Regions from separate parts of the Homo sapiens genome. Here region 2 is reported to be linked to region 1. Evidence: microRNA targets listed by miRTarBase, many of them from high-throughput screens and not tested one by one. Region 1 holds a microRNA gene; the other region holds the end of a gene's coding sequence.

Evidence for each region. Region 1 holds the annotated microRNA hsa-miR-548g-5p (UGCAAAAGUAAUUGCAGUUUUUG, at 1,854-1,876, opposite strand). A microRNA usually pairs through its seed, bases 2 to 8, with sites in the 3' UTR of a target mRNA and lowers its output. Matches are read on the target gene's strand: a 7mer-m8 pairs with bases 2 to 8, a 7mer-A1 pairs with bases 2 to 7 and ends in A, and an 8mer does both.
Region 2: miRTarBase lists KPNA6 as a target of hsa-miR-548g-5p. Seed matches in the 3' UTR shown: 8mer at 855-862.

The regions. Positions count from the first base shown.
Region 1 is chrX:38,022,096-38,027,170 of GRCh38, forward strand. It overlaps MIR548AJ2 (microRNA 548aj-2), which reads right to left and starts at 1,891; the gene lies at 1,800-1,891. The region is part of intron 1 of SYTL5 (synaptotagmin like 5); the gene reads left to right.
Region 2 is chr1:32,170,608-32,175,676 of GRCh38, forward strand. It overlaps KPNA6 (karyopherin subunit alpha 6), which reads left to right. Exons shown (of 14, transcript NM_012316.5): 14 at 100-5,069. The coding sequence ends at 287. Among named protein-coding and RNA genes, the nearest start is that of TXLNA, 6.5 kb to the right of the region's middle.

The DNA.
Region 1 (5,075 bases):
ACAGATTTAAAATTACTCTGTCAAATTACTATAAAAATTTCTAAATGCTTATTCTTAATTTCTTTACTTATATAATTGCAAACCAGTAAGTTTACAGACCTGCACTGGTTTGCAACCCAAACTTTGAATAAAGCTGTATTAGCCTATCCCAACTGATACAGTGTTACTGTAAGAGAAGTATGAAAATGTATTGGATAGATACTATGAGTTTCCAATTGCTGCTGTAGCCAATCACCACAAACATATTGTCTTAAAACAATACAATGTATTATCTTACAGTTCTGAAGGTTAAAAGTCCAAAATGAGTCTTGGGAGACTAAAATCATGGTGTTAGCAGGGTTGCATTTCTTCTGGAGCCTGCAGGAGAATCTGTTTCCTTGTCTTTTCCAGCTTCTAGAGGCCATCTGCATTCCTTGGCTTGTGGCTGTTCCTCCAACTTCAAAGCCCATCACCTCAGCCTCTGCTTATGTCGTCACACCTGCTTTTCTGACTTTAACTCTACTACCTCCCTCTTGTAAGGATCATTGTGATTACATTGGGATCACCCATCTAATCCAGGCTAATCTCTTTATCTCAAGACCTTTCACGTAATCACATCTGCAAAGTTTTGCCATCTAAGGTAACATATTCACAGGTTCTGGGGATAAGGATGTGGACTTCTCTGGGAGCCATTATTCAGTTTATCATAGATAGCTAAGCTAAACTAGGAGTCAGCCATTTAAGTAGATCCCTGTGGATACTTAGGAATTAGGAGATGGAGAAATGGGGGAAGTATCCCAGGCAGAGTCTTACAAATAGGAAGATCTGGAGGTGAGGAAGATTATGGCTTTTTTAGAGGAATGAACTTTTGAGTGTGGTTAGAGGATAGATACGAGAGAGAGAGATCAGCAAGGGACAAATCATGAAGGGTTTTGTAAACCATATTAAACAACTTGAACTCTTAAAGAGCAAAGGGAAGACATCAAAGGGTATTCAGTATAAAAGCAACAATTATCAATTTGTATTTTGGAATTGCATATAGAAGAGCCAGATTGGAGGCACAAAACTATGATGCTGATGAACCACGGTGGTGTCACCTAATTCACAGCATGTCTGAAACCCAAATCCATTATTTCCCACAAAAGCCAGCACATTCTCCATCTTCCCTATTGTTTTCTTCTAGGATTCAATTCTTAACATTATTTTTAGCCTCTTTCTTTCTTTGGCTTCTTACTCTAGTCAGTCACCACACCTTATTGGTTCTTGAAAATTTTTTAAAGACATAATATATGGTTACATGAATACATCCAAAATAATAAACAATATGGAAATAAGTCCCTTTTCATCCCTTCTCTGACCCCTAACAATCCAACTCTCATCTTCATATGCAACCTGATTCATTATCAATATGTATTATCCTGTGCCTTTTATTATGCATTTACATTTATTATGTACATGCATATATCTACTGCATTGTTTTAAAAGCATTTGCATTAAAAAGCATAATTATCTTGTCTATTTTCAGCTCGCAATATAACTTAGATATTTTCCATGTCAATATATTTATTTTAAATGCCTCATTTTAAAATTGAACATCGGTATTGCTCTCTTTTCCAGCTTCGAGAGCTTCTAACTCTAATAGATTCTAACAGTTTCTAACTTTAGACTATTACAAACTTTATCTTATAACTTATTTTTCAAATCTTTCTCTTTTGAAATTTTTATTAAGGCTTTCTCTTAGCCAGCATTTTTAAAGGTAGAAGTAGTCTTCTCTTTAAAAATATCAAAATACACAATGCCAAGAAAATAAACAGTGATCTTAAATATTAGGTTGGTGTAAAAGTAATTGCAGTTTTTACCATTAAAAGTAATAGCAAAAACTGCAATTACTTTTGCACCAACCTAATACCTTTTTCCAAACTGAGAGCTCTGTGAAAATTCACAGTGGACATTAAAGACTCTGAGAAGTTCTGTAGAAAAAAAAATATTTAACTTGGTTTAACTCTACATATCCAAATTTTTTGTTGAACTACATCACTTGATATGGTTTGGCTGTGTCCCCACCCTAATCTCTTGAATTGTAGCTCCCACAATCCCCACGTGTTGTGGGAGGGACCTGGTGGGAGGTAATTGAATCATGGAATCATGGGGACGGGTTTTCCCATACTGTTCTGGTGATAGTGAATAAGTCTCACGAGATATGATGGTTTAATAAAGGGCAGTTACCCTGCACTCGCTCTTTTGCCTGCCACCATGTAAGACGTGCCTTTGTTCCTCCTTTGCCTTCCACCATGATTGTGAGGACCCCCACCCCAGCCATATGGAAATGTGAGTCCATTAAAGCTCTTTTTTTTTAAATAAATTACCCAGTTTCAGGTATTTCTTCATAGCAGTATGAAAATGGACTAATACAGCACTGTTAACAATTCCATATAATATCTAATAACATCTCATGGGATACTGTTGTTCCATGAAGTCACTGTGTGGCCTCAAATGTAGTGGTTACAAGCAGGGTCCCTGAAACCAAACTATTCTGAATTACTTACCAGTTGACCTTGGGCAAGTTACTTAACATCTCTGTGCCTCAGTTTTCTCATCTATAAAATAGGAATAATAGCAATTTGTTTCATTAGGAAGTCATAAGGATTAGTTGAATAAGTGTTAGTGGTTATTATTTGGAGCATTCTGAGGATACTGCTCTTGAAGTATTGGTATGAAGTTGATGGCACTGTTAGCCTCTCTACTGTTATTTGAAGAATCCATATCATTGTGAAATTAAAAAAAAAATCTTGACTATGGCACTCCCATATAATGTACCACACAGAATTGCCCGTGTGAGAAGAAACAGCTCTGTTGCAAAGAAATTCCTGTAATTCCATAGCATCTCTCTTTGAGTCATTCAGTTTGGGGTTCGTTGTAAAAGTACTACTTTTTTCTCTATCCACAGCATGACAGTTCTTACCTTTTGACAGTCTTGTGGACTGCTGTGCTTGTGGTAATCCAATCACAGCTGCTTTGCAGGATGACTGCTCCTCTATTTGAAAGGCATCCTCAAGGGTATTTTGCGTATGTGATTTAGCTTGTATTCTAAGCATCCTAAACATCTCTGTAAGTGTGCTGAAAATTCATCTAATTTGTATTGTCACATGGTGACAGTCAAACAGGAAATTAACTTTATTTCTATTAATTTCATCCTAAGAGCACTCTCAGAAACATTCTATATTTAAAGCTGCATTTCAAGTACACAGTAATGAGATATATTCAGATATACCCTTTCCTTTGATTCAAATATCGGCCCCTATTATTTTTAGGTGTGTGTTACTCAAAATAGATGCTTTTTAAACTTATGTCCCTTTGTGATGCTATGAGAGTATTTGACTACCACATCTTTTTGATAATCAGAAGTTAATGACTTGTCCAAAGTTATCTATGCTGAAAGGCAATAGAATGACATACAAAGCATCTTGCCATCTTTCTAAACAGCTTAGCATAGTTCAACAAAGTTACTGGCCACAGAGGGAAAAATCTACATCTATATTTAAAGAGAGAGATCTGTTTAAGTTAGGAATTGAACAATAAAAGAAAAATGAATTTCACCCTCCTAATCTGACTAGTGTTTACTAGCCCCATTTAACTAAAAGAATGAGGATCAATTACTCATTTTTTTCTCTACTTGATTAAAATGTGTAATGGGTAAGGGATTCTCCAGGTGAGGTATGAAATCGCTGAAAAGAGACACACAGTGATGATATATCCTCAGGTGAAGTCATTGCAGTCCAGATGCTGGTCTTCAGTGCAAAGGCTGAAAAATTTGATTTGGTTAGCACACAGCAAACAGATCTGACATGGGTTCAAACTAAACCAAATATGGAGAACTCCATAGACAGGACCAGAACATTCACTCCTGAAGGGAGAGCTCTATGGGAAGCCAACTTATAATCAAAAGTGTCTGGAAGGAAGTGAGATTGAGCAAGGGTAATTAGCTGTATGATTTGAGTGATTCGTGGCATGAAAATTTCTCAGAATGAGGCTCCATCACCTAGCATGGAACATGCGCTACAGGGAACAAACAACTATTTTCATTTTCATTCCCTTTCTCTAGTTGGAGTCTGGATGGGCACTGACATCACCTAGCTCCTTAGATCTTCCTTGTCTATGCCTTGGTTCACTGTCTCCTTTTCTTCACCCTGTATTTCTCCGGAAGGACTGCGTTATCATCAACTGCATTCTATCTTACTAAATTTATAGTCATAGTTCAGTGCTGCCTTCTGGAGAAAACATCCTGATTTTCTTGATAGAGTTTTGCCTACTTCTGATCTCCTTAGCCAACTGTTACTGGAAAGGGGTCCCGATCCAGATCCCAAGAGTGGGTTCCTGGATCTCACACAAGAAGGAATTGGGGGTGAGTCCATAGAGTAAAGTGAAAACAAGTTTATTAAGAAAGTAAAGGAATAAAAGAATGGCTACTCCATAGGCCGAGCAGCCCCAAGGGCTGTTGGTTGTCCATTTTTATGCTTATTTCTTGATTATATGCTAAACAAGGGGTGGATTATTCATGCCTCCCCTTTTTAGATCATACAGGGTAACTTTCTAATGTTGCCATGGCATCTGTAAACTGTCATGGCACTGGTGGGAGTGTAGCAATGAGGATGACCAGAGGTCACTCTTGTCACCATCTTGGTTTTGCAGCTTCTTCACTGCAGTTTTATCAACAAGGTCTTTATGACCTGTACCTTGTGCTGACCTCCTGTCTCATCCTGTGACTTAGAATACTTAACCCTCTGGGAATGCAGCCCAGTAGGTTTCAGCCTCATTTTACCCAGCTCCTATTTAAGATGGCATTGCTCTGGTTCAAACACCTCTGACATTTTCCCCTTCCCTTTTACAAGAGAATCCTTAATCCTAAGGGTTGCAGAGGAATGAAGATCCATCTTTTGTAACTTCTTCATGCTGAACAGGGGTGATGATATTCCTGCCTAACTATTAGGGTCTCTTGTATTCAGAGTAGAGAGGAGCTCAGTTGGAAAGTGTCATTACAGTGAGGGCCATTCATAACTCTTGAGTTCTGACAAAAGGTGATATCTGGAAGATTAGTA
Region 2 (5,069 bases), not on the chromosome of region 1:
AAGCACTAACATACCTCAGGGAAGGAAAAATAGGTAAATGTTTCACCTGCCCATAGAAAAGCACTCACACTTCCCTCTCCTTCCTTCTTACTACTGTAGGCTTGGATAAAATTGAGTTTCTCCAGAGCCACGAGAACCAGGAGATCTACCAGAAGGCCTTCGACCTCATTGAGCACTACTTTGGTGTAGAAGACGATGATAGCAGCCTGGCTCCCCAAGTCGATGAAACGCAACAGCAGTTCATCTTCCAGCAGCCTGAGGCCCCCATGGAGGGCTTCCAGCTATAATATCTGCCTCCAGGGAGGGGAGGGGATGGGAAGCACCACCAGCCAGCGGAAGAGCAGCCCTCTGGTGGGCGGGAAACCAGTGTCCCCACCATCAGCCACCACACACCTCTGCTGCCCTGGAGACTGTGCTCTTGACCTGCTCCGCCCCCTTCCCTGGAGGGAGCACCCTCTGGACAGACAGAACCATCTGAGGCTCACCTTTGGGTTTTGTGACAAGAAGGGGACGTGTTGGGTTTTTCTTCCTTACACTATATTTTGGCTGCACACATGTCTTTAACCCAGGAGCCCAGGGGTAGACAAAGGAGGACTAAGGTAATCAATTTGCACCTTTTTTTATTTTTATTTTTTTTCTTTTTTTCTTCAGTGGTGACTTCCTTCCCTTTATCTTTTTTCATTCTTCCCGGTCCTCTGCCCTGATCTGTGTAACTCTTATCTTGGGTACTTGAGCAGACGGTATATTCCAGAGGTGGGAGGTGGGAGGGGAAGGGAGAAATCCAAAACAAAGTGTTCTTGCTCTGACAGAATATTAATCTTGTACGCTTGGATTGAGTTATTTAATTTTTTTTTCTTTTGCACATTTTTCTTGTATTAAGATTGCTCTTCCCAAGAGCCACAAGTTCCTGGTTTTAGTAAACCCAGCTGCCTGCATTGCCTGGGACTAGAGGCTGGGGAGGCTACCATGAAACAAAGGTCCCTCCCTCCCTCTGACTCTTTGCCCAGACCTCTTTAGTTTGGGGGATCCTCCTCACTCTCCTGAAGTGTCTCAAGTATACCAGTGGGAGTGCAGGGGAGGAGCACAGGCCTTCAGATGGGGCTTCCCACGTGTAGCTACTGATCCCATATTTCCTACTCACCTTCCAAATGGTGCGACCCAACTTCATTTGTTTACTTGAAAATTCCCCCTCGAGGTTGAGAGAACCTCTGAGGTGGCTGTATTTTCTCCTAAGCTTGAGATAGGGGGCTGTGGTCCTTCCTTTCTCCTGAGGAGAAAGTCCTTGCTCTGGTGACCTGTAAGTTGCAGAGGAGGGTGGAGTGAGAGTGTCATGTATTGGGATAGTCAGGGATCCCTGCCTTTGGCCTTTCTTCTTCTTCTTCTTCCTCTTCCATAGTTGGATCATGTATATTTTACTTCTAAAGGAGAGAATGTCAAAAAGTTCTGTATTTTTTTATATTCTATATATTAGGTAGGTCAATCTTAATTGGTCTCAAGAGGAAGAACTGTCTGTCATTTCGGTAAGTAGGATACTGTGAGGAAGACCAAAAAGAGATATGGATGCTTCCTCGCTCAGGAGGCCTGAGCTTGGTCCTTTTCCTCTCTGCTTGGATTCTGGACCACCACCTGGGACCAACCTTCAGCTCTGGAACCTTCATAAAGCAGGTCAGCGTGGCCTGATTGTCCCAGGACCTGAAGGGAGCAAGGATGGCCTCAGGGCCTGGTGAAGTCTGCTACTCTGTCCTTACTGCTGAACATCCTGCTTGTATCAGGAAACTCAGAAGCAGTTTGCCTTGTCAAATTCAATCTCAATGGCCATTGTCCACATAACTGATCACCCATGGCTGCCTCTCCTATTATCTATTATCACTGAAACTTAGTAGCCTGCTTTTTTTTTTTTTTTTTTTAGAGCTATTGCGTATCTTCCCTGTTTGGGATCCTTGTACCTGGTTTGGGTTTTCCCTTCCTTGTGACAATTATAATCCAGATGCCTCTTCTTTCTGTTTGAATTACGGTAGTGCATTGCCTTAGTGGCTTGCCTGTGCCTCTGGGTGGATTACATATGATAGTAAAGCCCACCTGTTTGGATGGGAGTAGAGGAAGTTGGTGTAGACCAGCTGTGGAGCTGAAGGCACAGTCTGCCCCACCCCCACCTCCCCACTGTGGTTAGTCAGAGGCATCCTGCTCCAAGCTCTGCTTTTCCTTCCTCTGAAACAATGCCATTCTTGCTTCTATTGCTACACATCTCCTTCTGGCTCAGGTGAAATCCATGCCCTTCTGCTTATAGACCTAAAGTTCAGGTACTTATTATTGGCCATTGATCTTGAATTTGCCCTCTCCTAGTGCTGCAGTCCCACTTCAAAGCCATTTTCTGAGGAGGATGGTTTAGGTCTGGCAATTGTCCTTGAAAAATCCCACCCATGTTGTACCACCTTGGTGAGTCATATGCCACTCATCAGCTTGGGAATGATGGCTGCCAACTCCCAATCTCCCAGGAAGGCAGGGGGCAGAATCTTTTTTTCACTTGGCCTGCTACCTCCATTAAAAAACCATTCTCTTACAGTTTAAAAAAAAAAAAAAAAAAAAAGCCTTCCCCTACCCAACCTCCGCCCATTGTTCTCTTCCAAAGGGCAATTTAGTAGGATCTACTTTGTACATCTCAAGTAAGAGTTAAGTCCCTGATACAGGGACCAGTTTCTTAGTGTAAGACATACACATCCTGCTTGTCCAGCTGTTCCTCCAAAATCTACTTTGGCTTCAGCTCCGGGTCCTGTACCAGATGGAAAATGTTTTTGGTGATCTGGCTGCTGCTTAAAGCCAGTTTTCCCTAAGAACTCCAAAGGCTAAAGTCTACTAGGGGCAGAGTGTGAGGATAGATTTCTAATCAGAGAAAAGTGGCCTCCAGGAGCTTTCATTTATGTCTTCTCCAGACCAGGTTTTCCTGTTATCTTCCTTTAATCCCCTTTCAACCAACAGGTGAAGTTCTTCCAGCCCACAGAGGTAGTAATATCATCTTTTCTATCTCCTCCTCTCCTTTGGCCATGTAATGAAGCAAAATATTATTTATTTAGCCCAGGCTTGAGAGCCACTGTTTGTGGACAGTCTTCATCTAGATTCCATACCCTGGCCTAGGCGAGGTAAGGCTCTCTGGTTATTGCCAGGATGGAGCCCCTCTACCCCAGTCTGCTGTAGGGAATACCCTAATTAGTTGAGGCATGCTTTTGGAATCCTGGCATGTTGGCATATGGCTGGTCTATCCTTTTTAAGATCTCTGGTTGGGGGTATCTGGATATGGATTAGGAGGGACAAGGAGCCTTTTTCTTGGCTAATGTTTTCCAATACTTTTTTGAATGGTGCCAGCCCCTCCAGGCATCCCACCCCCAAATCATCATCTTTAGTACTAACAGGGTGTCTGGTCTTAGAAGCCTCCCTTCAGATCCCAGCTGACCCTGGTGACTGCCTGGCCTTGATGTTGGCTGCAGCCTTCTGATAGAACCACATGGATTCCACCCACAGCTGGCCAGGCTTGTTACATGGGTCAGGGAATACAAATGGCCCCCCCCCAGGGAGCAGGTGTTGGCCTCAGTTTTCAGGGACCCTTGGTGTTGCTCCTTACCTAGAGCCCATTAATCTACCCCATCAACTCTCTGCCATGAAAGCCATCTTCCAGGAGCCCTGTTTTTTGGAGCTGAACTGCACAGATTATAGCTGCTATTGTACTTAAATAAGGGAGAGGAAAAGAAGGTTCTCAGGCACAGACTTTCTATTTTTCTCAAGCCAAACCAGTTTAAAATGTCTAGCAGAATGAACTGTATTTCCATTTCTTCATGTCTACCTGCCTTCCCCCCACACCCTAAAGTTGTACTTGTTTCTAGCAAACTAGAAGGAAAAGATAGGAAAGCCTGGCACTACTAACCTCACCTCTCATACACCTCTTTGAAGGCCCCAGCTCTTTTGTTCAGGCCTCTCTTCTCCCCTAGACTCACTCAGCTTGGTATCCATCATCTTGAGCATTCTTCAGTAGATTCATCTAGGGTTCAGATTCCAGACTCTCAGCTGAAGACAGGGAGCCAATTTCCCCCAGGTCCCTGCAGGTAATCCAGGGACCCCATAGGGAGAACAGGCTGACTGGGGCATTAGGAATGTTTGTACCTCTCTGCTTCCCTGGCAGCCTGGGGAAGGGTGCAGGGCTCAGTGCGCTAAACCATGGTAAACATCTTCAATAGAACTACCCTAGAATTTAGTGAGTGTGAGACTGAGATATTGCTCAGAATAAATTTATTCCATAGCCATTTAGGATTGCATGTTCTGGACCAACCTTGTCCAGTATGTTTTCTGTTTGAGCTTTTTCATTCTTTTGTTAAGCCAACAAGTTGAGAATTTGGCCCTGCTGGGATCCATGTAGTGGGCACTAGCTGCTCTTTGGCCAAGGCCTTCATAAATGATTCAGTCTCTCATTATCTGTCCTCTAGCCCCACACCCTGATTTAGACCGTGGCAAAGGAAGAACTTGAGGTCAAGACCAACCAAATCTGTGAATTAAAGCTGTTATTTTTTTCTCTGCAAGGGCGCTTTGCTTCAGGTCTGGGCTATGTGCAGAACCTAAGCAGGCTGTGAGAGTTAGAAGAGGCAGTATTACATGTTAGGCCCAGAACACCATGGGAAAAGGTTTATGTAGTGTATCTTAGTGGCCTGCCTAGCTGCCTCTGGGCCAGGCTGACTTCTGATGTCCACATTAGCTCGTACCTGAACCCTGTTGCTGAATGCCAGCCCTGTTCTCCTGTAACTATTATATACGCCATGGCCTGGGGGGCATTGAAGGAAGTAAGCTCTCAGAGATCCTAACACTGGCTGGGAACCTCTGACTCAGAGCATGTCTTTAAAGAGTCCACATCTGGCCAGGCGCGGTGGCACATGCCTGTAATCCCAGCACTTTGGGAGGCCGAGGCGGGTGGATCACGAGGTCAGGAGTTTGAGACCAGCCTGGCAACATAGTGAAACCCCATCTCTAATAAAAATACAAAAAATTAGCTGGGCGTGGTGGCAGGCGCCTGTAATCCCAGCTACTTG